Regions from separate parts of the Homo sapiens genome. Here all the other regions are reported to be linked to region 5. Evidence: microRNA targets listed by miRTarBase, many of them from high-throughput screens and not tested one by one. Region 5 holds a microRNA gene; each other region holds the end of a gene's coding sequence.

What was found. The annotated mature microRNA hsa-miR-6743-5p reads AAGGGGCAGGGACGGGUGGCCC and lies in region 5 at 2,272-2,293, opposite strand. An mRNA with a match to its seed (bases 2 to 7 or 8) in the 3' UTR can be bound and repressed. Matches are read on the target gene's strand: a 7mer-m8 pairs with bases 2 to 8, a 7mer-A1 pairs with bases 2 to 7 and ends in A, and an 8mer does both.
Region 1: miRTarBase lists CCDC106 as a target of hsa-miR-6743-5p. Seed matches in the 3' UTR shown: 7mer-m8 at 2,739-2,745 and 7mer-m8 at 2,716-2,722.
Region 2: miRTarBase lists MFGE8 as a target of hsa-miR-6743-5p. Seed matches in the 3' UTR shown: 7mer-A1 at 505-511, 7mer-m8 at 622-628 and 7mer-m8 at 852-858.
Region 3: the mRNA of PGAM4 is a reported target of hsa-miR-6743-5p. Seed matches in the 3' UTR shown: 7mer-m8 at 2,809-2,815.
Region 4: the mRNA of CAPN15 is a reported target of hsa-miR-6743-5p. Seed matches in the 3' UTR shown: 7mer-m8 at 860-866.
Region 6: the mRNA of IL31RA is a reported target of hsa-miR-6743-5p. Seed matches in the 3' UTR shown: 7mer-m8 at 388-394, 7mer-m8 at 2,057-2,063 and 8mer at 2,666-2,673.
Region 7: the mRNA of SZRD1 is a reported target of hsa-miR-6743-5p. Seed matches in the 3' UTR shown: 7mer-m8 at 312-318.

Annotation. Positions count from the first base shown.
Region 1 is chr19:55,652,294-55,655,553 of GRCh38, reverse strand. CCDC106 (coiled-coil domain containing 106) reads right to left here. Exons shown (of 5, transcript NM_001370470.1): 5 at 2,393-3,124. The coding sequence ends at 2,808. U2AF2 (U2 small nuclear RNA auxiliary factor 2) reads right to left here and starts at 519. Exons shown (of 12, transcript NM_007279.3): 1 at 401-519. The coding sequence starts at 449. RefSeq lists silencers at 134-273, 484-533, 624-673 and an enhancer at 724-1,393.
Region 2 is chr15:88,896,454-88,899,713 of GRCh38, reverse strand. MFGE8 (milk fat globule EGF and factor V/VIII domain containing) reads left to right here. Exons shown (of 8, transcript NM_005928.4): 7 at 1-58; 8 at 182-1,031. The coding sequence ends at 319. Among named protein-coding and RNA genes, the nearest start is that of HAPLN3, 2.5 kb to the right of the region's middle. RefSeq lists enhancers at 2,056-2,105, 2,042-2,336.
Region 3 is chrX:77,966,002-77,969,260 of GRCh38, forward strand. It overlaps PGAM4 (phosphoglycerate mutase family member 4), which reads right to left. Exons shown (of 1, transcript NM_001029891.3): 1 at 1,948-3,259. The coding sequence ends at 2,873. All of the region lies in intron 1 of ATP7A (ATPase copper transporting alpha), which reads left to right. Among named protein-coding and RNA genes, the nearest start is that of PGAM4, 2.0 kb to the right of the region's middle.
Region 4 is chr16:552,956-556,215 of GRCh38, forward strand. CAPN15 (calpain 15) reads left to right here. Exons shown (of 14, transcript NM_005632.3): 13 at 1-86; 14 at 384-1,681. The coding sequence ends at 561. Among named protein-coding and RNA genes, the nearest start is that of PRR35, 5.8 kb to the right of the region's middle.
Region 5 is chr11:208,374-211,633 of GRCh38, reverse strand. It overlaps MIR6743 (microRNA 6743), which reads right to left and starts at 2,298; the gene lies at 2,228-2,298. It overlaps RIC8A (RIC8 guanine nucleotide exchange factor A), which reads right to left. Exons shown (of 10, transcript NM_001286134.2): 1 at 2,696-3,260; 2 at 2,316-2,363; 3 at 1,634-2,227; 4 at 972-1,063; 5 at 285-435. The coding sequence starts at 2,779. RefSeq lists enhancers at 2,058-2,645, 2,720-3,260 and silencers at 2,544-2,653, 2,724-3,013, 3,014-3,212.
Region 6 is chr5:55,916,858-55,919,857 of GRCh38, forward strand. It overlaps IL31RA (interleukin 31 receptor A), which reads left to right. Exons shown (of 15, transcript NM_139017.7): 15 at 1-3,000. The coding sequence ends at 263. Among named protein-coding and RNA genes, the nearest start is that of IL31RA, 67 kb to the left of the region's middle.
Region 7 is chr1:16,394,608-16,397,867 of GRCh38, reverse strand. SZRD1 (SUZ RNA binding domain containing 1) reads right to left here. Exons shown (of 4, transcript NM_001114600.3): 4 at 1-2,830. The coding sequence ends at 2,728. It also overlaps a transcript of SPATA21 not described here. Among named protein-coding and RNA genes, the nearest start is that of SZRD1, 29 kb to the right of the region's middle.

The sequences.
Region 1 (3,260 bases), not on the chromosome of region 5:
GCGGAAGTGCCAAGGCAGCGGGAGAAAAGAGATTACGGGGACTAACATAATCTCCTTTTCAGAGAAACCAAAAAGATTTTAAAAAACAAAAGTTCACGTCGAGGCATCTGGCGCGCTCGTGCCGCGTCCCCCGCGCCACCTCCGCCAGGACCACGTGGGGCGCAGGGACAGCCGCCGTGCGCATGCGTCACGGGCCCGCGCCCCGCCGCCCCCTTCCCCTCGCCTAGCGCGCGGCGGAACGCTGGGGACGTCACGTGAACGAGGCGCGCGCCACGGAACCAGGGTTGGGGGGCGCCGCGCGGCCGTGAAGTGGGGGGAAGCGAGGGAGAAAATGGCGGGGGGGCAAAGAGCGACGCGAGGAGCCGCCCACACCTCCGCCCCGCGACCCCGGTGCCCTCACCTTGTTTATTCTCGTTGAGCTGCCGCTCGAACTCGTCGAAGTCCGACATGCTGAGGCGGCCGCGTAGGGCCCTGTGCAGCTTTCGCCTCGCCTTGCCGCCCGCTCCAGCCGCTTCGGCTACTTCCGCCGCTGGCTTCGGCTACTTCCGGCCGCCGCCGGCGCTTCGCCACCTCCTACCTAATCAAGCCTCCGGCAGCCCTCCCCGCCCCGCCCGGGCTCCGCCCCCTCACCCGCCCGCCCGCCCGCGAGCTTGCCCCTCCCCCCGAGCCTGGCTCCGAAGCGCCTCGGCTATCTCCGGATACTGGACGAAGGCGAAGCAGGCGGCCGCTTCGGCTGCTTCCGAAAACACCCGAACGTAGGGTTTCGCCGACTTCCCAGGTTTCCGTAACTTTTCCGAGATTATCTCCTCAACGTTCGGAGGTTTCCGTGTGTCCTCGTGTGCCACTGCGCCCAGTCCCCTCTGCGAGTTCGGGTTCTTCCAACAATTCAATCCGTCCCAGTCTTTGGCTTCTTCCACGGACTTGCTCCGATCTTCTCCGCCGGCCCTGTCCAAGCAATCGGCCACTTCCGACAATCCTAACCGTCCCGGCCTTCGGCTCTTTCCGGAGATTTCCGGATCTCGCCCTCGGGCCCCTCCTGGGATTAAGCTCGAGTCCGTGTTTCGGCTCTTTCCGGAGATGCCACTTGCTCACGCCTCCGATCAGAGAACTTCGGCTCCTTCCGCCACCGCTTCGTGAAGGCCTCACTCTCCGGGGACAGCTTCGACTTTTTCCGTGGGTACCTCGGCTCCTTCCGGCTTCGGGAACGGAAAAGGGAAGGAGAACAGAGACGAGATGGATCAGGGGAAGGGATAGAGAAGGGGACGAGGTCCTAGTTCTCGGCACCTGGCTCTCCGGGTGGGGAAAGTGAAAGAAAAAAAGGGCCGGCCTCGCGGAGGGCCTGAGAAGGTTGTGCCAGACAAAAGCAGCAAGAGGGATGAAGGGTGCGCGCGACCGCTGCGGAGGTTGCCAGCGCGGCTTTTTGCGCCTGCGCAGGGTGGAAGCCGCGGGTGAGGGGAAACAGGCTTCTGCGCCTGCGTAAAAGTCGTTCTGTGGCGCGCTCTCCCACTGCTCCCGTGAAGGGGGTTGCGGGGACCAGGTTTCAGTCCCCATTGCGCGTGCGCGAGATTTCCCTTACAACGGTGAAAGTGCTTAATCCCCAGCCGTTAAATCCGGCCACCCTCTTGGTTGTCTCGGCAACCACATCAACGCGCTCCGGCTCTTCCCGCCGCGCAGGCGCGGCAGACGGATCATCTGGCATTACTTCCGGGAGACAGATGATCTGGCGTTACTGCCCCCTGGCGGCCCAACGGAAGTATCCTCCAGACTTGGCCTGGCCGCTAGGTGGCCTCCCTCGCTAGAGGTCATCGACTCACGCCTCTCGCGCCGCGCTCCGGTCTGGGTAGCCCAGCGGGTAGTGTCCACGCTTCTTTTTACTTTTTTTTTTTTTTTTTTGAGACGGAGTCTCTGTCGCCCAGGCTGGAGTGCAGTGGCGCGATCTCGGCTCACTGGAACCTTCGCCTGCCGGGTTCAAGCGATTCTCCTGCCTCAGCCTTCCAAGTAGCTGGGACTACAGGCGCCCGCCACCACACCTGGCTAATTTTTTGTATTTTTAGTAGAGACGGGGTTTCACCGTGTTAGCCAGGATGGTCTCGATCTCCTGAACTCGTGATCCGCCTGCCTCGGCCTCCCAAAGTGCTGGGATTACAGGCGTGAGCCACCGCGCCCGGCTGTGTCCGCGCTTCTTTTCCCGAGCTCTGCCTCCGAGTTTTCTGGGGCGCAGCTGCTTCACTCTCCATCTCTGCCTCCGGGGGGCTAATTACACCGTATCCTACCCGTCCTCCCGCCTGACCACCCACCCCCTTGGAAGCCCCCGCAACCCCGTCACCGTCTTCGGGGCGACGGCCGCCCCCTCCCAGGCACGTCCCCCTCCTAGGAAGAGGCTGAGGCCAAGTTTATTCCAAATTTTCACGTCGTTTTTTAATTTAAATTATCTGAATAATTCTCTGTCTCACGCGGAGTTGGGGAGGTCTGTCCGGGAATCAGGTGGGCAGCTCCTCCGCGGGGCCAGGGCGGAGACGGGGTCTGTACAGTCCCCCACTCGAGGGGGGGGCACCCGCCTGCCTGGTTTTCCAGGAGGAAGGGGCCCGGCGAGGACAGGGCTGGGCAGCCCAAGCGGAAGGGGGTGCCGGCGTTCGGGAAGGGGCCGCGGCCGGTCCGGGGCCGTCGCGCTTGGGGGCCCGGCTAAGGGAGCCCCCAACCCAGGGAGCGAGGAGGAGGGGCAGGGGCGCGGCGGGGAGAGGGGCAGGTCATCCACCGGGGTCCACGGGGGAGGAAGGCCCGGGTGGAGGCGCGGAGGCGTGGTGCGATCACCGCTTGAAGCGGTAGGTGATGGGCAGCAGCAGCTTGCTCTTCTTGAGCGCCTGCACCTTCTTGAGCGTCTCGTCGTCCAGGGCCAGAAAGCAGCGGCGGGAGTACTCGAGCAGGCGCTCCTTGGAGGGGTCGAACTCGCCCACCTCGGCCAGCTTCTCGGGGGCCACAATGAGCAGCTCGGCGATGGGCGTGGTCAGCGCCACGGTGTTCCTGTCCACGCGGTGGTGCTCGAAGGCCCGCGACATGCTCTTGAGCTTCTGGAAGGTGCCCAGGATCTTCTTGTACCGGCAGAGGACCCCGTCGGCGTCCTTCACTGAGGGGTGGAGGCGGGGACACGAAAGTGAGGGGCAGGGCACAAGACTGAGGGGGCGGACACGGGAAGGGAAACGGCCATGGGAAGAAAGGATCTCGGCGAGCAGAGGCACGGGCCGGTGCAGGTGGAGACGGAG
Region 2 (3,260 bases), not on the chromosome of region 5:
CAGTAATGACAGTGCGAACTGGACTGAGTACCAGGACCCCAGGACTGGCAGCAGTAAGGTGGGTGTCTGTCCAGCTGCCCACCCTTTGCCATTCCTTCATTACTTCCCTGGGAGTCTGGCCTGGGGCTCTGAGGGGAGGGGGGCTGGCTCGGGGTCCTCCTGACACCCGCTCTGCCTCTAGATCTTCCCTGGCAACTGGGACAACCACTCCCACAAGAAGAACTTGTTTGAGACGCCCATCCTGGCTCGCTATGTGCGCATCCTGCCTGTAGCCTGGCACAACCGCATCGCCCTGCGCCTGGAGCTGCTGGGCTGTTAGTGGCCACCTGCCACCCCCAGGTCTTCCTGCTTTCCATGGGCCCGCTGCCTCTTGGCTTCTCAGCCCCTTTAAATCACCATAGGGCTGGGGACTGGGGAAGGGGAGGGTGTTCAGAGGCAGCACCACCACACAGTCACCCCTCCCTCCCTCTTTCCCACCCTCCACCTCTCACGGGCCCTGCCCCAGCCCCTAAGCCCCGTCCCCTAACCCCCAGTCCTCACTGTCCTGTTTTCTTAGGCACTGAGGGATCTGAGTAGGTCTGGGATGGACAGGAAAGGGCAAAGTAGGGCGTGTGGTTTCCCTGCCCCTGTCCGGACCGCCGATCCCAGGTGCGTGTGTCTCTGTCTCTCCTAGCCCCTCTCTCACACATCACATTCCCATGGTGGCCTCAAGAAAGGCCCGGAAGCGCCAGGCTGGAGATAACAGCCTCTTGCCCGTCGGCCCTGCGTCGGCCCTGGGGTACCATGTGGCCACAACTGCTGTGGCCCCCTGTCCCCAAGACACTTCCCCTTGTCTCCCTGGTTGCCTCTCTTGCCCCTTGTCCTGAAGCCCAGCGACACAGAAGGGGGTGGGGCGGGTCTATGGGGAGAAAGGGAGCGAGGTCAGAGGAGGGCATGGGTTGGCAGGGTGGGCGTTTGGGGCCCTCTATGCTGGCTTTTCACCCCAGAGGACACAGGCAGCTTCCAAAATATATTTATCTTCTTCACGGGAACTCTTGGTGTGGTTCGTTATTGTTTCATGGGAATGGGATTTAAATTGCGCTGGTTTCCCCATCCCCCACCTGTGGTCCTCCCTGAGCCCCAGCTTGCTTGCTTGCTTTTTTTTTTTTTTTTTTGAGATGGAGTCTTGCTCTGTCGCCAGGCTGGAGTGCAGTGGTGTGATCTCGGCTCATTGCAATCTCTGCCTCCTGGGTTCAAGCATTTCTCCTACCTCAGCCTCCCAAGTAGCTGGGACTATAGGTGCACACCACCATGCCCAGCTAAGTTTTATATTTTTAGTAGAGACAGGGTTTCACCGTGTTGGCCAGGATTGTCTCAATCTCTTGACCTTGTGATCCACCTGCCTCGGCCTCCCAAAGTGCTGGGATTACAGGCGTGAGCCACCGTGCCCAGCCCCATCTTTCTTTATGTCACCTGCCTGACTACACATAGCTTCATAGCAGGAGGCTGGAGACTTTGGTCCAGGGCGGCCTGAAGGAAGTCAGGACTTCCAGGTCCTCAAAACCTGACTTCCCCTCTTCCCTCTGCTTTCTACCTCCATGCCGTCTGGCCCTGAGCCCTACAACTGCTGCCTGGTCAGGGGCCCAGCGAGTGCTGGCAGACACTGTCTCCTGAATGCTTTTGCTCCCTTCCTGCCAGGAAGACTGGCTGGGGCAGCTGGTTTTCCCCTTCAGCAGTTTCCATTCTCTCTGCAACTGGAGTGGTGGGCTGGAGAAACTATAAGAAACTCAGTGAACCTGGATGCCTTCCGAACTGCGGGAGTTCCTGGGGTGGGTGCAGCGTGGGACTGGAGGAGGGGGCCGGGGCTCTGCCAAGTGGGCATGAGGCCTCCTGCCTGAACACACTGGTTCCTGGTAGGCCACTGGCGTGTGTGCTCCAGGGATACCCTCTCTGCCCTCCCCTGTGTGGGGGTCATCAAGAAGTGGGGGTGGGCCTTGCGGGCCAGTGTCTTGGTGATCTGGAAGGGTGACTTGCAGGCAGAGGCTTGGCTAGCTTGGGAAGGGGTGTAGGAAAAACCACCCTCTTTGTCAAGGTGAATTTTTCCAAACTTTGGGAGCCGGCTGTGTTCTGCAGGCAGGGGGTGCATCTGAGCAGCAGGAGGTGGGGCCGCCTCTGAGCAGCAGGAGGTGGGGCCGCCTCTGAGCAGCAGGAGGTGGGGCCACAGGGCTGCCAAAGGGAGGGCGTGGCTTTGCTGGAACCACATCAGGGAAATGTGTCTGGAAGTGGTTCCTTTCTGAGACCTGCGGTTGCTGGGCTCCTGGGCCTAGCAGGGTCTGAATAAAAGGCCCAGGCCGTGGTCTTCGTAGGAACTGAGGATGGGGGACTCCCTTCCCCTGGGTGTCCCTTGGCCTACTGCCTCCCGTTTCAGAGCTCTCTTCTGCGGAGCGGTGTGGATTGGGTTTAGAGCCAAGCCTTTCTGCGTGCTTCCAAGCCTCAGGTCTCCCTCCCGGGGGAGTTTCCTGCCCTGAACCCCTGTTCCAGCATACCCTGGGGATAAGCAGACAGTGGGAGAAGCATCTCTGCTCTGGGATGGGTTGGCCACAGCCTTCTAAAAGTCCCCCTCCTGGGACCCTGGAGTGGAGTCCCCTCACTCCTGACCCCCTCCTTCCTTCCTTGGCTTCTCTCCCTCAGCAGTGTCTTCCATTTGCCCAGCTTTTACCATCACCCCTACACATTGACTTTTTTCTGCCCCACTGCAAGGCAGAGGGTGAGCGTTCAGATTCCACCTGCTGGCTACCCCTACCCCTGGCTGGCATGTTCAACTCGACTTAACTGTAGCAAAATGTGCTCTCCCTACTGTCCATCCTCTCCCCTGTCGGGAACCTGCAGAGGGACCTACCTTGGCTCCCCTTTGCCCATCAAGCCTGGCGTTCCTTTTAGGTGTAGTTTACCTGTTGATCACAGTTCTTTGTGCTCCAATGTGCCCCTGGCTGTGTGTAACACACACACATGCACACACACACACACACTCATGGGCCAACTTGAGCTGTGTTTAGGAAGAGGCTCTGAGCTCTGTGACCCTGTGACCCTTCGACCCTTCCCCCAGCCAAAGCTGAAGGACCTCCTTAGTCTTTTCTGCTGAGGAAACATCGGGCTGTCCAGGCCAGGGCCCCCATTGGTCTGGACAGGAAAGAAAACACCCTGTCCAAACAGAGGCATCCTGAGCGGCTGCCTGGATGGCTGTGCTGATTAGCAGGATTCCGAAGGGAGGCCCACCCCTG
Region 3 (3,259 bases), not on the chromosome of region 5:
ATAGGTAAGGGGTATGTTTTGTTGTTGTTGTTGTTGTTTTTAGGTGATGAAAATGTTCTGAAATTGCCTGTGGTGATGGTTGCACATGTCTGTGAATATGCTAACAACTATTGAATTCTACACTTTAAATGTGCGAATTATATAATACGTGAACTACATCTCAAGAATGTTTTAAAACTGGTGTTGGGAAAACAGGACATCCACATGTAAAACAATGTATGTCAGATCCTTACCATACACCATGTACAACAATTAACTCAAAATGGATTAAAGACCTAAATATAAGAGCCAAAACTACAAAAACTCTTAGAAGAAAACATAGCAGTAAATATTCGTAAGTTTGAATGTGGCAATGGTTTCTTAGATATGACACAAAAAACACAAAAGAAAAAAGATAAATTGGACTTCACAAATTAAAAGCTTTTGTGATTCAATGGACACCATCAAGAAAGTGAAAAGAATGGAATACCGATACATTTTACACATCAATGTACCTTGAAAACATTATGCTAAGTGAAAGAATCCAGACACACAAGGACACATATTGAATGAATCAATTTATATGAAATGGCCGTATAGGCAAATCCGTAGAGATAGGAAATAAAATTAGTGTTTGCCAGGGGCTGTGAGTAGAGAGGAAATGGGGAGTGTTGCTAATGGACATGGGATTTCTTTTTGGAGTAATGAAAATGTTTTGCAACTACATAGTCATTATGGTTGCACATCCTTGTGAATGTACTAAAAAGTACTGAACTGGATACCTTAAAAGGCTGAATTTTTTTCATTTCTTCTAAAAAAAACCAGGATAGATGTGCAGAACGTGCAGGTTTGTTACGTAGGTACATGTGTGCTATGGTGGTTTGCTGCATCTATTGACCCATCCTTTAAGTTTCCTCCCCTCACCCCTCACCCCCCAGCAGGCTCCGGTGTGTGATGTTCCCCTCCCTGTGTCCATGTGTTCTCATTGTTCAACTCCCATTTATGAACAAGAACATGCAGCATTTGGTTCTCTGTTCCTGTGTTAGTCTGCTGAGGATGATGGTTTCCAGCTTCATTCATATCCCTGCAAAGGACATGATCTCATTCCTTTGTATGGCTGCATAGTATTCCATGGTGTATATGTACCACATTTTCTTTCTCCAGTCTATCATTGATGGGCATTTGGGTTGGTTCCAAGTCTTTGCTATTGTAAATAGTGCTGCAGTAAACATACGTGTGCATGTGTCTTTATAGTAGAATGATTTATATTCCTCTGGGTATGTACCCAGTAATGGGGTTGCTGGGTCAAATGGTATTTCTGGTTCTAGATCCTCGAGGAATCGCCATACTGTCTTCCACAATAGTTGAACTAATTCACATTCCCACCAACAGTGTAAAAGCGTTCCTATTTCCCCACAGCCTCACCAGCATCTATTGTTTCCTGAGTTTTTAATAATTGCTATTCTGACTGGTGTGAGATGGTATCTCATTGTGGTTTTGATTTGCATTTCTCTGATGATCTGTGATGTTGAGCTTTTTTTCATATGTTTGTTGGCCGCATAAATGTCTTCTTTTGAGAAATGTCTATTCATATCCTTTGCCCACTTTTTGATGGGGTTGTTTTTTTCTTGTAAATTGTTTAAGTTCCTTGTAGATTCTGGATATTAGACCTTTGTCAGATGGGTAGATTGCAAAATGTTTTCTCCCATTCTGTAGGTTAAAAGGCTGAATTTTATAGCATGTGAATTATATCCCAATTTAAAAAAGAATGCATATGTCTTAGTTCAGGCTTCCATAACATAATACCATAGACTGGGTGGTCTAATTGTTCAAAGCTCCACAGAAATTAGTTGGAGAAGTTACAAGAGTCCATTAATCATCTTGCTTTGTTAGTAGCAGCGGGCATGGTTCAGCATTTTCTGCTTAAGTTTCTCTGAGCTCACCAAAACTAAAATGATGTTGTAATACTTTTTTTTTTTAATTGCACATCACTCCTTTATTATACTGATCTGGTAAAAGGATTTAGTACAGTTATGCTCAGATGAACACTGGGCCCATGTGGCAGGGTCAAGCAACTAGAACATGATTCAGAAATCAGTGAAAGACACACTTGGACAGGACCAAGAGGCATTTCACTGCCATGAAACAAGGCAGGAAGGGATTCTAATACACACACCAGGAAGCACTCCTGCCCCTCAGAGGTCAAGGAGCTGATCCTATATTGGTATGAGGAATGGCTTATTTTCTGATGACCACATGTGGGACTATTTCAACCGCCACAAGAAACCCCAGAAGGGTTATTGTTTTGTATTATTAATATATACTATACTTTTTTAATAAAAGTAAATATAACACATAACGAAATTCAGGATTGATCCCAACCTAGAGCCAGATCCTCTGGGGTCAAGGAGGAAACAGTTGTCACATCACCATGCAGATTACATTCATCTTCCACTGGAATGACTAGAGCCCCCAGGCAGTGGCCTGACTGCAGAAGAGCAGAGGACAGACTCTGCTCATGGGGACAGACAGGCTCTGTTGCTTCTCCTCATTGGTCGTGGCTTAGCATGTTCCTCCCCAAAGTCCTTAGTAAACAAAGCACTCACAAAAACCCAAGTCACTACTTTTAAACTCTGTTGGATAAGGGGAGCTTTTCCACAGCTTAGACTGAGAACCTGTGCTCTAGAACTGCTATTCTGACTAGATTGTATGAAGGGAGTGGGTGCAGGCGACAAAATGGCTAAAATGAAAATGGGAGCCACTGGTCCCCATCTGCAGCTACAACTCAAGATGTCTACAGATGTGGTCAGTGTGACATGTGCAGGTGGGAGGGGCAGAGGGACAAGACCAGCAGGGAGGGTGCTCCTGGGGACAGTATCCTCCCCGCTGGCCTTCACTTCTTGGCCTTGCCCTGGGCAGCCACAGCTTCTATGGCTTTGCACACCGTCTCTTCATCCCCCAGAAACTGCATGGGCTTGATAGGCTTCAAGTTCTTGTCCAATTCATAGACGATGGGAATACCAGTCGGCAGGTTCAGCTCCATGATAGCCTCTTCAGAGAGACCCTCCACATGCTTGGCAATGCCCTGGAGGCTGTTGCCATGGGCTGCAATCAGTACACGTTTCCCCTCCTTGATCTGGGGAACTATTTCTTCATTCCAGAAGGGCAGAGCTCTGGCAATAGTATCCTTCGGACTCTCATAGGAGGGTAGCTGATCTTCTGTGAGGTCTGCATACCTGCGATCCTTACTGATGTTGCTGTAGAAAGGATGGTCGGGCTC
Region 4 (3,260 bases), not on the chromosome of region 5:
GTGCAGTGTGACTGCACCGACAGCTTCAACGTGGTGTCCACACGCGGCAGCCTGCGTACCCAGGATAGCGTGCCACCCCTGCACAGGTGCGCCCCCGCCCCTGCCCCCCCACCCCTGCACAGGTGCCCCCTCCCCTACCCCGCTGCACCCACACCCAACTCGTGCCCCCCCACCCCTGCACAGGTGCCCCCTCCCCTACCCCGCTGCACCCACACCCAACCCATGCCCCCCCCACCCCTGCAGAGGTGTGCTCATACCCCTGCCCCCACCCCTGTACGGGTGTTTGTCACCCCACTCCTGCTCCTGCCCCTGTACAGGTGGGCACAGCCCTGCCCCCATCCCCACCCTGCCCTCCACAGGTCCTCACCGGTCCCCTCCCCCAGGCAGGTCCTGGTGATCTTGTCCCAGCTAGAGGGCAACGCCGGCTTCTCTATCACCCACCGCCTGGCACATCGCAAGGCAGCCCAGGCCTTCCTCAGTGACTGGACAGCCTCCAAGGGGACCCACAGCCCCCCACTCACGCCAGAGGTCGCCGGTCTGCATGGGCCCCGACCGCTGTGACCACCATGCCTGGGGCAGGGGCTGTGCACAGACGGACCCCCCACCCCCACACGCACTTTATGAGGGAGACCCCGACAGAGGACGCTTGAGCCAGAATCTCAGGACCCCGCCCAGGGAGCTGCCAGCCCAGGGCTCAGCTTCCCATGGGCCCCCCGCCCCCCTCCTTCCCCTCCCTGAACCCCACAGTCCGCCTGGCCAGGCCTCCTGGCCGCCACGCAGAATACCTCGAACCAGGCGGGCTGTGAACCAGCCCCGCTCACCTGCCAGCCCCAACACCCGACGGGGGCCGAGGCCAGGCTGCCCCTCCCTGTGGGCTCAGGGTCTCCTGCGGGCTAGGCAGCCAGGAGCTCTGTCCGCAAAACCAAATCTGGGTGTCAGAGGCCAAGACCCTGGGGTGGGATCAGGGACCACCCCTCACGGGGCATAAGGTCAGTTTTCCCCCAGAGCCCGGGTCCCTGTCCCCCACAGGGCAGGCGGGGTCCCTGGAGCCCTGGTGTGGAGCGGCGAGTCCCGGGGCGGTGCCTGTCTCAGAAGAAGGGGCCCTTGGCCAGCCCCCCAGCGACACTATGCAAATCCTGGAGTGCCCGCCAGGATCGAAGCCATGACTGGGTGCAGGCGGGCGCCAGGCCCGCTGTGGGTGGGCACCAGTTCTCAGCACCGCTCACTGCTGCCGGGCACACTGGGACCAGCAGGCTCCTCAGCCAACCCTGTCCCTCGGCCCGGCCCTGCCAGAGAGGGACCCCAGCACATCGTGGGCACGGGCAGGGCTCAGCCGCTCCCACCTCCCCACAGAAGCCCAGGAGTGTGTGGACGTCTGAGCCCAGCTTTCTGCGTGCCCTCCTGGCCCCTCACTCCCGGCAGCGGGCCGGCCTCGCCCCCACTCCCCCTCCTACCCCGGCAGGGGCTTCCGGGGCCTTTTCACCTGGAGAAACATTCCCACTCCCCTTTGGCCTCCCTGTACTCTGAGCTGTGAATATTTTTAACCCTGTAAATACGGCCAGCTCTTGTGACACAGAGACTATTTTATCAATTGTCAGTCCCGTTCCTTTACCATAGGATTCTCCACAGTGGCTTCCGACTCAGGCTCCAATGGACCAAATAAAAGCGTTTTGTTTTGTAATCACGCCTCCTCCTCCTGCTGTTGCCCCGCGCAGGGCCCTGTGGAAGGGCGGGGAGGTTGCAGGTCTGAGGGGTAGGCCCTGCCCAGGCATCCCGGGCAGGCGGACGGGTGGGGGCCCCTGGAGATGGCCGTGGTGGGGTGACTCACAAGCTTGTAAGGGGCAGCCGGCCCTGCCAAATGGACGCAGCCAGGAAGGACGGAGTGACTGGGCGGGGGCAGGGGTCAGACCCTGCGGCCGCAGCCCCAGGGCCGGGAAGGACTGGGCAGACGGGACAGCAGCGCATGCAGCTTCTTCCAGCGAGGCATCCGCACGGGGGGCTCTGTCTGAACCCATCAGTCACCCGGCAGGAGCAGATGGAGTGAGGGGGCGCGTGGGGAGAAAAGTTTCCTGTCCCCTCCCAGCCTCGTCCCAGGGTGGCCTCTGCCCCCACACGGGTGCTGCTGAGCAAAGCGCCCGCTCGGAGGCTCTGCTGTCTCCCTGGACGGAGTTGGGGGCTGGGGTGCGGCCGGCGCGGGGTAAGAGGCTGTCACGGGCAGCGTATCGAATGTGAAAGCAATTAAAGCCACCAGCAGTGTTCGCTCCGGGCGGGCCTCGGGCGGCGGGGAGCTGCCAGAACACATCTCACCTCGGTGCCCGCGGACGCCGGCCCTGCTGCTCCGCGACTGCGCCACGTCACACTCCTCCTGTGGGTGGGGGCCGGGCTCGTGCCCGCTCCTGTTTGGCACAGAGCTGGCTCTGTCTAGTCCTGGGGTATCTGGGACCCCCGTTCCTCCCGAGACCCTGCTCCTCTGTCCCTGGCCCCACCCCCACCACCACCCACCTCTCTGGCTTCTGCCACCCCAGTCCTGGGGTGGCCCAGGACAGAGGCCCACAAGAAGGACCCTCCTTCTTGCAGGAGTCCCGCACAGCAGGCAAGGGGTCCGTGCCCACCCCCTCAGCTGCCCAGAGTCCCCACTAGCCCAGCCAGCAGCCTCCTCTCCACTTGAAAGCCCCCGGGAGCAGCTCCCACAGGGAGGTGATGAGGGAAAGGGGGGGCGTCTGCAGAGGACTCAGGGTCCCACAGCACAGACCCTGCCAGGTGTTGGGCCGGGGCCACGTGAGGGGCTGCTGCGGAGGCCTGGAGGAGGCGGCTGGCAGCAGGTAAGGGGAAAAGATGCGAGCGTCCTGCAGGCAGCAGGGAGGATTGGCTGGGCAGGACACACAGCCCTGGCGCGGGGCAGACCTTGGTGGCAGCTGTCGGGGCTGACTCCTTCCCACTGTCACTGCCCGGCCCCCGCCCAGCCCTCCCCTCCCTTCTCTGTGCAGGCCTCTCCCCTCCCCCGCATCTCCTCCTGGGTCTCACCCCCACCAACAGCACCATCTCTCTGGTGTATCTGGTCTGTCCCAGCCCTGTGCCCCCACGGTGCCCTCTCCTGGCCCCTCTTGTTGGCGCTGCTGGCCACAGCCTTCCCGGGGTGGGCAGTGGCAAGTTCTCACTTATGAGGCATCGCTGTCAGAAGCATTTAGTGTACAAATTAGCCGTGGCCTCCTCGCCTCCTTCCACAGCTCTGGGCTCCAGGCTGACTGGGCCGCGGCTCC
Region 5 (3,260 bases):
AAGTAGGGACTGGGGGGCTTCTCTGGACCACTCAGTAAAGATCCCCAAAGATTTAAGAAGTGAAACCTTCAAGTGTGTGGAAGGTGTCCACATGCTTCTCATGGAGGAAGGGTCTGGCTTCTTGCCAGGCTGGACCACAGAACAACCGGAAGAGTCGCCCATATCACACCACCAAGACAATCTCCACGTACCAGTGTGGACAGTGTGGAAGCACTGACCACATCTGTGCAGGAGAACCAGTGCCAGAGCCACTGGGGGAGCCTGCACAGCCATCCCCAGCCTACCTTGTGCAAACGCTTCTCTAGGAAGATGAGGAGGGCACGAATCACATCCATATTCACTCCCATGAACTCCGTGGAGTCTCCATGTGGCTCCAGGGTGAGGAGAACATCCAGACACTTGAGGGGCAAGTTCCCCAGGAGGTTCACTGCGTGGCTGGGGACAGATGGAGGTAGGGGTTTCAACAGGGCTAATCCCTGAGCACAGGTGCAATCTTTGTGACTCCGCTGAACCACACATTACATGAGCTGGCATCTGAGTCCCAAAGGGGCAGCGCTAGGGACCAAAGCCAAGGGCAGGGACTGATCTGAGAGGCACTGCCACTCAGCTGTACAGTGGGGTCCCCTGGGGAAGTGGGGGCACTGAGACACACTGCCTCCCCGACCCTGTCTGAGCCAAAGCGCCAGACCATCTCTGGAAACCCAGACCAGCCTAGGGGCAGGTAGACCAAAAACGGGGACAAGGAACCAATGTGCCCTAGTAAGTACCATACTGTTGCCACTACCCAAGGCCCAGTTGGCACATTCCTGCCCCCAAATTCATGGCTATGTCCAGTCTCACTCACCCAGACAACGTCAGACTCTCTAGGGTGGGGCCTGGGCTCTCAGGTGGTTCTGGTTCAGAGCCGGGGTTGAGGACGACCATCTAGACATGTGGGCACACTTCCCTCCCAGAAAAAGCCCCATTCTCACCCGTGGAACTCCTCTGTGCGGTCTCCAGCAGTAGCGATCATCACACAGTGCCGGAGAAGGGTCCCCAGGTGTCGGTAAAGGGCAGCGTCTTCCTGACCAAAGAAAGAAGGGTTCCTGTGAGGAGCCCCACTCATCCCACTGCTGCCTGCTGAGGCTCCACTGTCTGTTGCACTCCAGGACTGTGTGGCAATGACTGTGCACCTCCTGTACTGCATACCTGGTCCCCTGGGGTCTTCCTAGGTGACTCTGGGTAGTGCTGGGGGCAAAAGATGACCACTGCTGTCTTCCTAAAAACTCCATGAGTATTCTTCTAAGAGCACTTCCCTGATTAGGAATGCTAACACATACCTTAGGGATGAAGTCACACTCTGTCTCAGCCCCACTCACAGCCTCATGGTGGAGGATCTCTTACAGTCTCCCCAGACACCACACAGCCCTCCTGCCAGGCAGCAAGAGCCAGAAGGGGCCTCTACTTCCCTCAGAAGCCTTTCCTGAGGTCCCAGCCCAGAACTGGCATCTCCTTGGCCTTGTCCCAACAGGCTGGGAGGTCCTGTCCTCTCCATGTCTGACACCCAGAAACCTGAAGGTACCCAGTAGGAAGCAGGTCCAGGAAATGTTGGAGCTGAGTTGAGACCCATCCATGGGTTAAGGTCAGTGCTCACCTCGTCCACCTCCCCCTTGATGGAGTCCAGGGTGATGTTGAAGAGCACTTTGAGGATCTCCATGGCCCGCTCAGTCTCTTGGGAAGGAAGGAGCGTGGGTGGGGGGTTCCCTTCAGGAGTCACCCCCAGCGTCAGCTCCAGTGTGTCAGTTAGCAGGCGCACTCCTTTCAGCTCCTGAAACAGCTGCTGGCGCACATCGGTGCGGAGTGCCGTTAGCAGGAAGAGGAGCCGCAAGTCAAAGAACTGGACATCGTGGGGGAAGCTCCTCTCACGGTACAGCCCCACACGCTCTGTGAGCTTCACCACTAGGCGGGCCTCTGCTGCCAGCATCTGTGCCACAGGGCTGCTGAGCACGAGGTTGCACAGGCACTTGAGGGACTCCAGTACAACATCCATGTCTGCGGACTCTGGGACGGACCCCTCAGAGACAGAGATGTCAGCATAGCAGGCTAGTGCCTGCAGGCTCTGGCGGCTGGTGAACGGGTCCAGGCAGTTGCGGTCCCGGGACAGGATTCGGACACTCTGCAGCCAGATGACACGGTGGGAGGGTGGCAAGCCCTGTTCCAGGACGGAGACCAGCAGCTCCGCCAGTCTCTGTGGGCAGGGAGAAGAGCGGCTCCACCAGGCCCTTCTTCCTGGGGCCACCCGTCCCTGCCCCTTTACCCCTTGGGCCAGCACCCACCTTCCGGTCCTCCTGTTGGGCATCATCAAACGTGAAGCTCTGGGAGTGCTGCAGAGAGAACTAGTGAATTCAAATCCACAGAGGGGTAGGATCCGCGTCCGCTGATGCGGGCGGCCTATTGGCCTCTAACTCAGGCAGCAGCCACTGCTCAGAACGGATGGCAGGGTCGGCACTCGCCCCCATCCCTACACGCCTGCCACCCAACGGGTGCACCCCCACTCTCCCCGCAACACTGCATCCCAGACCTGCCCCCCGCACCCCGCCGCGTCCCCTACGCTTGCTGACACAGCCTCTGCCTCACCCACGCCCTCCCTGCTACCCGCGCACGACCCTGCCCCACCCCCTCCGTGCCCGCCCCCCGGCCTCAGGCGGCCGCTTACCTCCTGGTTGTATGACCGCAGAGCTTCCATAATCACATCCTCCTCACCCGTCTCCACGGCTTCTGCAACCGCCCGGGGCTCCATGGCGCGCCGGGGAAGGCGGGACGGGCCCTTCCTCAGCCGTTCCGGGCCGCAGTTCGCCGGCCCCGCCCTGGCCCAGAAAGCCCCGCGCCAGCGCGCGGGGGAGGCCGGGACGGGGCGCGGCGTCTGGTGGCGCTTTAACGGGGCGCAGCGTCTGGTGGCGCTTTAAGGGGGCGCGGCCTGAGGCAGAACTGGCGGCTCGGAGGTTTTAAGACCCGAGTCGAGGGGCTGAGTCGCTCTGAACCGAACTGACCCCTCTCCTTGTGACCCGCGCTTCTTGGGCCAGAAGTTCCAACAGGAAACGATCTCAGCCCCCACCGTGCCCTGCCACACACACAGTGACGCCCCTCGAGCTCCACAGAACCGATGGGATGTAGAGGGGAAAGCCGAAGTGGAAAGGAATTTTCAGTCCTGGGCCATTGGGTTCGTTAGGCGTTTGCTGGGGAATGCAGGCGAACGGGATTCCCAGGTCCCTGCCTTTGTG
Region 6 (3,000 bases), not on the chromosome of region 5:
CTGATTGTCCCCTGGGGAAAAGTTTTGAGGAGCTCCCAGTTTCACCTGAGATTCCGCCCAGAAAATCCCAATACCTACGTTCGAGGATGCCAGAGGGGACCCGCCCAGAAGCCAAAGAGCAGCTTCTCTTTTCTGGTCAAAGTTTAGTACCAGATCATCTGTGTGAGGAAGGAGCCCCAAATCCATATTTGAAAAATTCAGTGACAGCCAGGGAATTTCTTGTGTCTGAAAAACTTCCAGAGCACACCAAGGGAGAAGTCTAAATGCGACCATAGCATGAGACCCTCGGGGCCTCAGTGTGGATGGCCCTTGCCAGAGAAGATGTCAAGACTCGGCACGCAGCGCTTGCTTGGCCCTGCCACATCCTGCCTAGGTTAAAGTTTCCCCTGCCCCTTGAGCTGCCAGTTGAACTTGGTCGGCAAAGATGCGACCTTGTACTGGGAAGAAGGGATGGTGATAAGCCCGAGTTTTGTAAAGGAACAGCAGTCTCTTTTCGTTTGTTCAGATACCAAGCTCTCACCGAGGCCTCCTGACAGATTGACTTTGAAGGAAGGGCCCAGGTTCTGAGCCCAAAGGACCCCCAGGGTGGACATATCTGGCCTCCCAGGAATTGGGTCATGGTCCCAGCCTTTGCTGGGGCTGAGCCTCAGAGTTCCAGAAGGCCTTTCCCTGCTGCCAGAGGACAGTTGTTTTGTTGGCTCTTGGGTGGTCTGGTGGGAGCCTGGGCTCTGGTCTTCCCCTACAAGGTAGCCCTGAAGCCTTCCTCTCTCCCCATAGTTGGGGCTGGAGGTGGAGTGGACCTTCCTAAGGGGTTGTCTGAGGCTCCTCACATCCTCTTAGATCTCAAGTGCCTGTAGCAACACCGCACCTGAGAATCCTCACCCCCAATTTAGACTGCATTGACTACTAAAAAATCAAGGAATGGGGAGGGCCCTGGGGAATGTATGCTGCCGGGCGCAGCTCTGTCCAGTCTCCAGGGGGCCACTTCCCAGCTGCTGCTGCCCTTCTATTCAGCACCCAGCCTGGGAGCAGAAAGGCACCTGACATTGCAGTGGTTGTCATATAGGGACGCTGGCCCCTCACACTGGTTCAGAGCCCAGGAATGCTTACTTAAAAGGCCTCTTCCCGGAAGCAGCAGGGCAGGGCCTGGGAACATGCAATGCCTAGCAAATTTGCAGCCCCAACAGGAGGACTTCTGCTCCTTTTCTCTAGCTGAGCACAGAGCTTGTGACAGTTAGTGGAGCCTTTCACGAAAGTGTGGATTGCTGGCTTCAGCACTGAGATAGTACTGGGCTCCTCCTGTAACTATAGTGACAGAGTCAGCTGTGACTCCCTTGACCTTTGTGGGAGGCCACTAGGAGGCTGGTGAGATCAGGGCAGGCGAGGCAATGAGTGAGTGGCCCAAGGTGCAGTGAACCCAGCACTTGCCAGCCAGGAAGGCTGATGGTATTTTTTCTAGGAGAGTTTGAGGAATCAGTACTAGGATTGCAGGCATGAACTTCGCAAGCCACCCACTCAGGTGTGCAAAACATCACTTTACTTTCCTAAAACTAAAATTAATTGCCAGCCTGAGACCTGACACTTCAAAGTAACCTCAGCCCAGTATGATGATTTCTGAGTTGCCGTAGGTTTGTGACTCAGTCACATTTGGGGTTTTGCCCTCCCCTGTCCTGCCTGGGACTGGCTCTGAGTGCCGAGGATGTTCAATGGCGCAGCGTGCATGGGGCAGAGTTGGTCACTCAGTGGCATCCTCTGGGTCATGTATTTGTCCGGCCGTGTTTTTGTCTCTGGCCTCGTGTGTTTACTATGGTCCCTCCTGTCCCTGTTGGGTCACCTACCACTTACCTTAGCCAATTGCTGCCTCGTTACTGTGGGCACAGGAAGGTGTGGCTGCTCTCTCAAAGCTCTGTCCTCCTAACATCTCCAGCGGCTGCAGCCACCCCCCCACCACCCACCCAGGACTCAGTACTCCTGGTTTACGGAACAGTGACTTCTGGTACACCAAGGAATGAGGGAGGCCCGAGGCAGGGCACTGGGGAATAAGACTCTAGGGCAATGCCCCTGTCCCGTTGTCCTGCACTCAAGTCCAGGTGTAGGAAGGGACCAAACAAAAGAGATGCGTCCAATTCTCATGCCGCCCCTGATGTCTGCTCTCCCTGCTCTCCCTGTTCTCCACCCCTTCTATGGTGTGGGCTCTTCTGTGAGCCCACTGTCCCCAGAGTTCCAGATGGGGCCTTTGGCAACCCCACCTTCAGATTCATGAACATATGGGGAGATTCTAGCCTTGCCTCCTGTCTTGGCCCGAGGATGGGGGAGGGCACGGGTACCCCCACAGCTGTTCTTTCAACCCTCCTGCCCACCTGTAGTTGGGGGAATTTTCTCAAATTCTGTGGGAGGTGGGTGAGAGGAGAGCCTGGAACAAGTTCTCCCAAACTTGTCTGTCTCACACCTGGATGTAGATGAAGCTTCTGAACCTAAAATCTAAGAATTTGATGGGAGAGAAAATGGATCCCCAATGGCTCCTGTGAGTGGATTCCAGAGATAAGGATGTTGCCCTCTGGCCCCTGCTCCTTCATCATCAAAGCTGGAAGCGTCTTTTGCTGGACAATTTGCAAATCCCCACCCAGCCCTTCCTGTTTCATTTCTTCTTTCCTTTCTCTCCTCTTGCCCCTATCTTGTGCTTTGTTTTCCCCCACTGCCAGAGCTTCTCATCTTTTAACACTTGCTATTGTTTTCTTGTTTCTTTTCATTCCTTTCTCCCCTTCCATCAGCCTCCTTTGATCATTTTCCATGGTTTTATTACCTTTGAGGGGTGGGAAGATGGTGGCTCTGTTTCTTTCTAGGTGAGAGGAGCTGTTTCTATGAGTCCCCAAAAGGCACTGGTGGGCCACACCTTAGCTCTCCTGAGCAGGTTCACAGGATGTGAGCCTCAGAGTTCAGGGCGCAGGTGACTTCCTCTCCTGGATCGAGTCACCAACTGTCCCCGCTCTGGGCACCAGG
Region 7 (3,260 bases), not on the chromosome of region 5:
CTGAGCAGGGCACCCCCAGATGGGGCAGAGCAGGGTATGGCTGGGCAGGGCAGGGCTGGGCGGGGCAGATGGGCTCTGGAAGGGGCTGATGGTAGCAGATAGGGTGTTGCCTCCTGCCTGCAGGTGGGGAGCACCCTGATTGAGTGGGCTGAGAAAGGTTGGTCACCAGGCCTGGACCCCCCAGCTCCTTTGGTTATAGGCTGACATCAGAGTAGTGGCTCATGGGAAGCGGTTAGCTGGAAGGTCTGAGGCCTGGCCCATGGGGTCAGGGAGGAGCTGGGGGAAGGGGACAGTACCGTGAAGGCAGATAAAGGGGCAGCAGCCTCAGGTTTCTGCCCCCCATCCCCCTGGGGTTTTCCAAGCCAAAGCCTGCAACTTACTTTAAAAAAGAAAAGGAAAAAAAGCACTTAGGAAAGTTACAGACAACTACCCCCAAAAAATACCCTCCCACACACAAAATCCAAACCGTTTCCTCATCTCCCTCCCGCCTCCCCCGACACAATACAGTTTCCTGTTTTCTTTCTTTTTAAAAACGTTGCCTGCTACCTCTCCATTTGGGAAGCCCAGGGCATGACTGCTGGTGGGTGGTGACAGGCACACAGCGGGCAAAGCCCATCTTTGGCCAGAGGGAGGTGGGAGGACCAGTCCCTGCCACATCCTCAATCCACAGACACCCACCAGCCAGCCTTTACTTTGGCCTCCCACTAGAGGGTAGTGGGGCAAGAACAGGTGGTCCCAATGGCTGGGCAATCAGCACTTCTGGCGTTCCCACCTGGACTACCTCTATACCCTTCTCCAATTAAAAGGAAAGTCTCACTTTGGGCGGGAAACCACTATTACATAAGGGATGGACACTACACATTTAGAATGTGGACACTTGGTTAGGGCAGTGGAACTATAAAGATAGCAGCCAGTTTTCTTCCTTGCCTTCTCCTGAAGGTAATCCTCCCTCTTACTGACTGAAGCTCTGGTTCCAGCTCTGCTCATGGGCAATGCCTGGCTTTACAGTTATAAGGCTGTGCTATGGACTAGCTGCTGACTCAGCTGGCAGCTGGCCCTTCCTCCGGAGGAGAGGACGTGTTGGGGCATGGCTTACTGGGCCTGGCCTACCATTCCCACAGGGAACCAACGAGGGAGTGAGCCTGTGAGACTCAGCTTGCCACCTTGGCCACCACGTGCTGCCCTCATCACAAAAACCACACCAACCACTCCGAAACGTATCTGCTGGTCAGGAGCAGGGAGGCTGTCTGGCTGGCTGAGGGATAAGGCGCAGTGCAACGGAAGGGATCAGGAAGCCTGAGAGGAGCCAGGTACACACAGCTGCTCTGGGCAGCTGCCCTCTTAGTCTCTTCCACCTCAAGGAGCCAAAGCAAACCCCAGGCTCCAGGGACAGAGGATAAACTGCCTTCATTCCAGGCCCTCGCTCTGGAAAAAGGGGTGACGGGTAGCCTAGGCCTCTGAGGAACCAGTCTGTCATCAATCTTTGCAAAGCAAAGCTGTTCTTTTTCCAACTTTATTCAGAATGTTCTGCCTTCAAGGTACTGATTGCACACAGGAAATGTACCAGGTATAGTTACTGAGCTGGGGCCACCAATGGAGATGGAGCACTGCAGACCCCTAAGAGTTCAAGCCATGCTGGAGTGGGAAGACCTATCCACCTTCTGAACATACGAGGCAGAAGGCTCAGAGTCCTGGAGGCAGACTCTCTCCTGGTTTTCCTTGTGCTGATGGCAAAATACTAAACAAGTCTTCTCTCCGTCACTTCTAAGCCCAGGGATGCAATCTCACTCCCTGGCACTCTGCTTTCTTCTAGAAGTAGTAAGCCTGGCTGGTAGGGAACCACCCTGAGGGGTATGGGAAGGGGAAGTCGGTTCACTTTCCCTATCTCCCAAAATACTAGAGGTGGGGTTGGCACCCTCCCCAGGCTCTCCGAGCCTACAGAGCTAGCCCAGTCTCCAGGCAAGGCCCAGATGCCCTGGGACTTAGCTCGGGGAGGGAGGTATAGGCATGGGGTGCTCGTCTGTCCTGGCGGCTGCAGAGCCCTGCCCCTTTTCTGGGCGGCAGTAGGAATACAGAAGCTAAGCTCACCAAAATCCTATTGGTTAATGTTTCTAGTGAATTTCCCAGAAACATTTTTAAGTAGACTACCAAACTACCCTTTCTTAATTAAAAATTCATTAAACCACTAAAACCCCTCCCATGCACTTTTTCTTGCAAATCAGATATTTGTATAAACAAACAAAAATAGGAAGAAAAAAAAAAGAAAGGATATTTTCAAATGGAACTTACTTTTTAAGTGATGGAGACATGCACTTGGGGGTGGGTGGGTGTGAGTTTTCATTTGTGTTTTGAAATCCCAAATTAATGAGCATGATAAACTGTTATTGCTGGCACTGGCTTTACCCCAAGTGGCCAAGTGGCACTGTCTGACTCTCTGAGTCCTTGCTGGGTCCCCCCAACCTTCCCCTAACCCCCACCCTTTCCCTTTCCATTGACTTGGGACAGCCCTTGTCGATGTGCCAATCACAGTGGGAAGGGGGAGAAGGGGGGAGGTCACAGTGCATGGGGTTCAAGGTCACAGTGGGCGGAGCAAGGGGGATCACAGTGCAAGTAAGTCAGGTCGTTCCCTCTGCTCAAGTCCAGCTGTCTGCCACGGCAGTGCAACCCGTGGCGGACGACCCAGGAGGCGGTGACGGCAGCAACGGCGGCATCTTTTCTTGCCTGCATTTATCTGCGCTGTTTGAAGCCTTGAGACCCATCAGGACCCAAAGGCTGTCTGATCACATTATTGGGCTGCCTGCTGTCTTCGGGTTGGGAGATCCTGGTTGGCCTGAAAGGAAGAAAAGCAGAGGAAGGCCTGAAGAAGGATATAATAGATGTCCCCCATCATTTCTTTATTTTTTATTTATTTTTGAGACGGAGTCTCATTCTGTCACCTAGATTGGAGTGCAGTGGCACGATCTCCGCTCACTGCAACCCCCACCTCCTGAGTTCAAGTGATCCTCCTACCTCAGCCTACCGAGTAGCTGGGACTACAGGCATATGCTACCACACCCAGCTAATTTTTGTAATTTTAGTAGAGATGGGGTTTCACCATGTCGGCCAGGCTGGTCTTGAACTCCTGACCTCAAGTGATCCGTCCACCTCGGCCTCTCAAAGTACTGGGATTACTGCACCTGGCCTAGATGTCCCCCATCTTAAAATCAACTGTCCATATAGCTGGGCCCACGTCACTCTGGCTCCGCAAGCCTGCTTCTTTG